Homo sapiens: one gene and its partner. The protein of the gene in region 2 purifies or fractionates together with the protein of the main gene of each other region. This does not show direct contact. Each region holds a gene or a part of one and is shown on either strand. Other genes may lie near its edges.

Evidence for each region. Proteins that work in one complex are often made in the same cells at the same time.
Region 1: the proteins of NANOS2 (region 2) and MAP4K4 purify together in Homo sapiens (affinity purification with mass spectrometry; 2 studies listed by BioGRID and IntAct, with this or other methods). This does not show direct contact.

What each region holds. Positions count from the first base shown.
Region 1 is NC_000002.12:101,695,697-101,699,296, forward strand, and holds the start of MAP4K4 (mitogen-activated protein kinase kinase kinase kinase 4), read left to right. Parts: upstream 1-2,010; 5' UTR 2,011-2,384; coding exon 2,385-2,441; intron 2,442-2,568; exon of another isoform or gene 2,569-2,746; coding exon of another isoform or gene 2,747-2,776; coding exon 2,777-2,842; intron 2,843-3,600.
Region 2 is NC_000019.10:45,912,890-45,916,832, reverse strand, and holds NANOS2 (nanos homolog 2), read left to right. Parts: upstream 1-2,054; 5' UTR 2,055-2,139; coding exon 2,140-2,556; 3' UTR 2,557-3,619; downstream 3,620-3,943. UniProt on the Homo sapiens protein: Plays a key role in the sexual differentiation of germ cells by promoting the male fate but suppressing the female fate. Represses the female fate pathways by suppressing meiosis, which in turn results in the promotion of the male fate.

The DNA of each region.
Region 1 (3,600 bases), on a different chromosome or scaffold from region 2:
GAGACCAGCCTGGCCAACATGGTGAAACCCTGTCTCTACTAAAAATAAAAAATTAGCTGGGCATGGTGGCAGGCACCTGTAGTCCCAGCTACTGGGGAGGCTGAGGCAGGAGAATTGCTGGAACCCAGGAGGCAGAGGTTGCAGTGAGCTGAGAGCACTCCACTGCACTCCAGCTTGGGTGACAGAGCAAGATTCTGTCTCAAAACAAACAAACAAACAAAAAACAATGTTATCAATAGTAAGATAGCCTGAAAGTTCAGATGTGTTTCTGTCTAGTTCTCTGAGTAAATTATTTTATTTACACTCATAGATAATGACATTGCTGCTGACAAAAACCAAAATTATCTAAAAGCACCAATACATTCATAGGAATACTTGGTTACTATAATTTTCCTTACAAATGGATACCAGGAGCCCCTCTATATATTTTACCCTTACCAGGGATTCTCATAGTCAAAAATTTCAGAAACCAAACTGTTGGGAAGCAGGATAGTGCTATACATATTCTGGGTAGAGCTAACTTGGCTGAATCAGAGATCTGGATTTTGGGAACAGGCTAACCTGGTGAAAATCCCTGCTCCACTTCCAGGCTGTGCTTTTAAGGAATTTGGACATACTCCTTATCTTTCAGTACTTTGCTTTCCTTACCTAAAAGGAGGATAACATTCCTTCAAGGCTGTAAATAGAGTGCTGTGTGTAAAGCACTCGGCACAACGCGTTTGTGTGGGGGAGACACAGTATGTGCATAAGAATTGGTAGATGATGATGGTGATGTTTATGAAAATCCAATCATGAATAGCCGGAGGCCACTGTTGTCAACGAGTGATCCCTGTAACAGCGACGTTAGCTACACTGAGAACTTACACATGCACATTCTCAGGCCCATTGCAGACCTCCTGAAACGAGAACTCGGGAGGCAGGGCCAGGCAATTGGCACTTTGCCTGAAGCACTCACGTTTTGAGAACACCTGTCAGGTAACAGGGAACCACTGAAAGTTTTTGGACGGTGGAGGAATGCGATATAAATGACTGTTGATTCACTGGCATTAAAGTGCCTAACTACCGACTGGCTTCCGAGGTTGCCGGAAGAAACCTGTTGGTTGATCCTTAGTGATCTCCAGGTTACAAAATGCGGGTTGGTACTAAGGGCCCCAAACACAGTGCTCACCTACCGAGCGCAGCCAGGAGCGCAGCGCCAGACAATTACAGGAGCTGTTTTGGATATGGCCGGGCAGCCCAGCGATGCTCAGCGAATCCCACAACTACAACCACAACCGTACCACACATTTAGCCTGCAAAAGCAGAGAAAGGAAAAGAAAACCGTGCAGGGAAGCCGGAAACGAGGGACTTAAGGGTCTCCTCTCTAGGGTGTGGGAGAGTGGGGGATGGGGCGAATGGGGCGAGGAGGGGGCGAGGATCGAGGGAGGCCCCTCCTCCGCTCGGCAACACCGGGTTCGGGTCCCTCTAGAGCCGGGACGCGGCCGGCGGGACACACCCTTGCCCTGGGAGACGCGAGGGTCCATGGCCTCTTAGTGTCGGTCCAGCTCAGTTTCGTGTCATTTGTTGTTAGCGCGAGGTAGGGGCGTTTCCCCACCCCAGCTCCTCCCCGGGGAAATCCCAGCCCGCTTCCTCCCCGCTCCTGCAGTTTTCGGGAGCGCCGTGCGGGGTCGAGCGCGGAGGCCGCACCCTGGGCGCCGGGCGTCGTGTCGGGACCGCTGCCCGCGCTGCCCGCCGGCGCGGCCATTGTTCGAGCCCCACCCCTGATGAATATTCACGCCGCGCGGGCGCCTCGGCCCGCGCCCTACCCGGCAGGGCTCGGGGTGTGAGTGCGTTTCCGCCGGTTTTTCCTGCCTGAGGAGGAAAGGGGGAGCTGTTTTCTCTCTCCTCAGAATATATTTTTGGTGTCCCGTTTCTCCTCCTCCAGCGCCGCCGCCGCCCCCTCCCTCCCCACCTCGCTCCCCGCCTCCGCCTCCGCCTCCCGGGTTATCTTTGTCTCGCTGCCTCGCGCTCACTCGCTCAACTCGGCGCCGCCGCGGCCCCACGCTCCGGGCCCGTCCTCGAGGCGCGCGGCGCGGGGCGCGGGCGCCGGGGCCTGAGGCGGCGGGCGACGCCCGGGGGCCTGACGGCCGGCCCCGCGCCATGGTGTGAGCGCCGCCGCCCGTGCACGCTCCGTCCGCCCTCCGCGCGGCCCGGCCGGCAGAGAGCCCCGAGCGGCCCGAGAGCGCAGCCGAGCCCGCCGCCGCCGCCCGCGGCCCCGCGAGGAGAGTACCGGGCCGGCTCGGCTGCCGCGCGAGGAGCGCGGTCGGCGGCCTGGTCTGCGGCTGAGATACACAGAGCGACAGAGACATTTATTGTTATTTGTTTTTTGGTGGCAAAAAGGGAAAATGGCGAACGACTCCCCTGCAAAAAGTCTGGTGGACATCGACCTCTCCTCCCTGCGGGTGAGTGGGCCCGCGAGCGGGCGCGCGGGGAGCGGGCAGCCGGCAGCCGGCAGCCGGGGCCGCGCCCAGGTCGGCCGGGCGCTCGGGCGCCGCCGTGGGCAGAGCCGCGGGGCGCGGCGGCCCCTTTGTCTTCCTGTGCGGGCTGGTGCGGGGCGGGCGCTACCCTCTACCGCCCCCACGCCCCGAGCCCGCCGCGCGACCCCCGGGCGCTGGGGGACCGCGCGGGGCGAAGCCCACCTCTTTTGTCACCGCCTTTTCTCTCCAACTGCCTTGCTTGATTTATTCATTTTTTTGGCTTCTTTTAAATGATAACCCCTCCCCTCCTTCCTCTCCAGGATCCTGCTGGGATTTTTGAGCTGGTGGAAGTGGTTGGAAATGGCACCTATGGACAAGTCTATAAGGTCGGTGTGGGCGCCTTCTTTGTTTCCCGTGGCATGTGGAAACTTCTTATTGGGGGACGAGGAGAGGGTGATAAACATGCTGCTGACTGGAGGCCACGCCGCTTGGCCAAAGTTGGGAGAGGGGTTTCTTTCGCCTTGCAGTCCCTCTGTTTTTGCACACCGAGTTTATATTCAGACTGGCCTTAAAAGACCTCATTTCCTGGCTTTGAGATAAGGAAATAAGCTACACTCTTAGGCATGCACTTTACTTCGATAAAATGGAAAAGCATTTTTTAAAAATAAGACAACCTGAATTTTTTCTTTTTTTCCCCAAATCCGGCCTTCTGAGTTTGTGTGTAAATTGAAATACAGTGGAGGCGGGCCTTGCCTCTGACGATCCTAAACCACTGCTTTGGCCATCGTGAAAATTGTCATCATGTTTCAGCCTCCACTCAGTGCTTGCCAGTTGCTCAAGGTGGGGAGTTTGGCGTTACCTGGGAATACTTTATAACTGTGGTTGTCATCCTTTCTATTGATGGATACGTATTTTGGGGAAGCAGGGAGGAGTGTGTGTTTGGGCAACAGCAGCAGGAAGAATTACAGTGTGGGGATTATAAAATCTGAATTCCAGGAATAACCTGTTTGACAGCTGTGTAATTGAAACAGAAATGACAGAGAGCGAAGAGAATATAGAGGATGCCCTGGTTTACACCCACCCAGGTCTTTCTCTTTTTTCAAAATTTTAACACCCACCCTCCACCCCAGCGATAAATGAAACT
Region 2 (3,943 bases):
GAACTCCTGACCTCAGGTGACCCACCCACCTCGGCCTCTCAAAGTGCTGGGATTACAGGCATGAGCCACCACACCCAGCCACAGTTTCCATATCCTGTGTTCCTCTTCCTGGAAGATTCTTCTTAGTGGTCTCAGCTTCCAAGTCCCATTCCTGAGCCAGCCACTCTTAGAACACCCGGTTCACAGGCCAGCAGGTCTTTACAGTCTAGCGTTTTCTCATTTACTGGTCGCTCTCCTGAACTCGTTCATGAAGCAGGCATAAGGTAGCCTTGGTCACTGCTGAATTTCCAGCACCCAATATGGAGCCTCAGTAACTATGTGTTGAATATCAAGGTGGCCCATGGAGACTGTGGGTGGAAGAAGAACCCCAGGTGCGGTGGGCGGGAGATGAGGCTTTTGCTCGTTCCAAAGGCCAGGAAGGATTTAAGACAATGGATGGGGCCAAGAAAGGGCTATTTTTTTTTTTTTTTTAGAGAGACAGGGTTGGCCAGACGCAGTGGCTTATGCCTGTAATCCCAGCACTTTGGGAGACCGAGGCAGGTGAATCACACCTGAGGTCAGGAGTTCCAGACCAGCTTGTCCAACATGTCAAAATCCCATCTCTACTAATACAAAAAATTAGCCAGGTGTGGTGGTGGGCACCTGTAATCCCAACTACTTGTGAGGCTGAGGCAGGAGAATCACTTGAACCTGGGAGGCGGAGATTGCAGTAAGCCAAGATTGTGCCACTGCACTACAGCTTGGGTGACAGAGCAAGACTCCATCTCATAAAAAAAAAGACAGGGTCCACTCTGTAGCCCAGGCTGGACTGCAGTGGCACAATCATGGCTCACTGAAGCCTAAACCTCCTGGGCTCAAGTGATCTTCCTGCCTCAGCCTCCTCACTAGCTAGGATTACAGGCACATGCCACCATGCCCAGCTGATTTTGTATTATATGTAGAAACAGGGTCTCACTATGTTACCCAGGCTGGTCTCAAACTTCTGGCTTCAAGTGATTCTCTAGCCTCAGCCTCCCAAAATATTAGGATTACAGGCGTGAGCCAGCATGCCTAGCCCAAGAGGGGGCATTCTAAGTGAGATTGTTCTGTGCCAAGTTCCTCTGCCACTTTTAACATCAATTCCCAGTTCCCAGAGTGATTATGAAACCCGACTCTGCCATTTCCTTGTTGTGTGACCTTGGATACATTCCTTAACCTCTCCAAGCTTCATATCTTTCTCTGTAAAATGAAAATACTAGGCCGGGTGCGGTGGCTCACGCCTGTAATCCCAGCGCTTTGGGAGGCAGAGACAGGTGGATCACCTGAGGTCAGGAGTTCGAGACCAGCCTGGCCAATATGGTGAAACCCTGTCTCTGCTAAAAATACAAAAAAAAAAAAAAAAAAAATTAGCCAGGCTTAGTGGTGGGCGCCTGTAATCCCAGCTACTCAGGAGGCTGAGGCAGGAGAATCACTTGAACCCAGGAGGCAGAGGTTGCAGTGAGCTGAGATCGTGCCATTGCACTCCAGCCTGGGCGACATAGCAAGACTCCGTCTCAAGTAAATAAATAAATAAAATAAATCAGGTCATGTTGTTATTATTATTTTTGTCTTTTTATTTTTTGTAGAGACAAGGTCTCGCTATTTTGCCCACGCTGGCCTAGAGGTCCTGGGCTCAAGCGATCCTCTTTCCTCAGCCTCCCAAAGTGCCAGGATTACAGGTGTGAGGCACTGCGCCCAGCCTGGCTGCTATGATGATTAGGAATAACTCTGAAGTCTATGAAGGGTGCAGCCCCTCCAGCCTAGGGGTGGGGGATATTTGCAGACATGGACTTTCTTTGAACAGATAGGGAAACTGAGGCACAGAGAATGGAAGTGTCTTCCCAGAGGTCACAGAGCACCTTGGCAGCAGAGCTGGGACCAGAGATCAGGGGAATGACCTCCTTCCACATCTCTGTGAAGAACTAAAGTCAGATGGGGGTTATGGGCAGGGAGTGAGCCCTTTAAATCCTAAGCTCCACCTTTACTTAGAAGAGTCTCTGGGCGTTATAAAAGGGGATGCAGCTCCCTTCTGCTCTGGGAAACGCCTGCTGCTCTTGCCCTTGCCCACGGGCCCCCAGCCCCAGCCCCTCTCCTGTGGCCCACCACCCCTGCTTTGGTGCCATGCAGCTGCCACCCTTCGACATGTGGAAGGACTACTTCAACCTGAGCCAGGTGGTGTGGGCGCTGATCGCAAGTCGGGGTCAAAGGCTGGAGACCCAAGAGATTGAGGAGCCAAGTCCCGGGCCTCCGCTGGGGCAGGATCAGGGGCTGGGGGCGCCAGGGGCCAACGGGGGCCTGGGGACCCTGTGCAACTTCTGCAAGCACAACGGGGAGTCCCGCCACGTCTACTCCTCACACCAGCTGAAGACACCGGATGGCGTGGTGGTGTGTCCCATCCTGAGGCACTACGTGTGTCCCGTGTGCGGGGCCACCGGTGACCAGGCCCATACGCTCAAGTACTGCCCGCTTAACGGTGGCCAGCAGTCCCTCTACCGCCGCAGCGGGCGCAACTCGGCCGGACGCAGGGTCAAGCGCTGAGCATCGTGAGATGCTCACCACCCGCACCCCTGACCCTCCTGGTCCATCCCACCCAAGTCCCTAAACTCTCTCTTCCAGTCACCCAGCCCTTTGGAATTTCTGGCCCCCAGAACTCCACCCTGGCTGGATCCTGAAACAGTGGAGGCTGCTGGGAGCCAGGCCAGCCCCGCCCCCTTGGACCTGTCAGCCCTCGGAGCTCTGGCCTGTGGGCGTTGGCCTGAGGGTCCTTGGTGCCGCGGGAACCCTTCCTGCACGGCCCTGTAGCGCCCTCTGGGCCCCGGTTCATGGATCTTTTGTCCTCGTGGGGCCTGCTGGTGACTGGAGCCCTGCCCCTTCGACTTCTCTGTTCCTTGTGGAGTTCTTGGATTTTTGAACCTCCAGGATTCCACGGTGCTGTCCCAAGCCAGCCCTTAGGAGATACTGAACAAGGCTGGCTGAGAAGTGCCTACTCAAGAACTTCAAGATGGGATGTCGACTTAAGACCAGCCTTCTCCATCTTCAGCCTCCTGCAGAACCACGGTGTCATCGTGGACCACGCCTGTTCATTCCTTCCCTGACCTCAGTACCCATCCGTCAGGAGCGGAGTAGGACTCTGGAGAGCACCGTATCACTGGAGGGCACCGTGTCTTCGCAGGCTCACCTGTGGATGGAGAGCCGTGGGGTGAGCTGACACCTTTCAATGCCCCCTGGTTGTTCTTCCCCTTGTTCAGCCCATTGCACCCGGTACCTGCCCCCATCCCCAAATCACCGATGGGTCCTTTCCCCCAGCGAGAAGCATATCTCTCGACCACCTCCCGTCCGACCCCCCAAATCGTGATAGTTGACTAAAGGACATTTTTTTTTCCTCCTGTGTTTTTCAACCTCCAACGTTCAAGTCAAGGAACCGCCGATAAGAAGGGGGTTTGAGTACCCGGATGGGAATGGCAATGGCCTAGCTTTTATTTTAGGGGCAAAGAGAAGAAGGGCCCCCGTCAGATTTTAAGTTGTTCAGTTTTTGGCACAGGGTCGGGACCCTGAGTATTGAGCTCTGGTGAATAAAAAGGTTTTCTAGTCGTCTTTGAAATGGCTGTATCTGTTTCCGTCTTTGGTTTGTTTGTGAGACAAGGTCTTGCTCTGTCGCCCAGGCTGGAGTGCAGTGGTGCGATCTTGGCTCACTGCCCGGATTCAAGTGATTATCCTCCCTCAGCCTCTTGAATAGCTGGGACTACAGGTGCGCCCCACCACGCCTGGCTAATTTTTTTTTTTTTTTTTGAGACGGAGTTTTGCTGTTGTCGCCCAGGCTGGAGTGCAATGACGCGATCTCGGCCCACTGCAACCTCTGCCTCTCGGGTTCAAGCGATTCTCCTGCCTCTCAGCCTCCGGAGTAGCTGGGATTATAGACATGCAC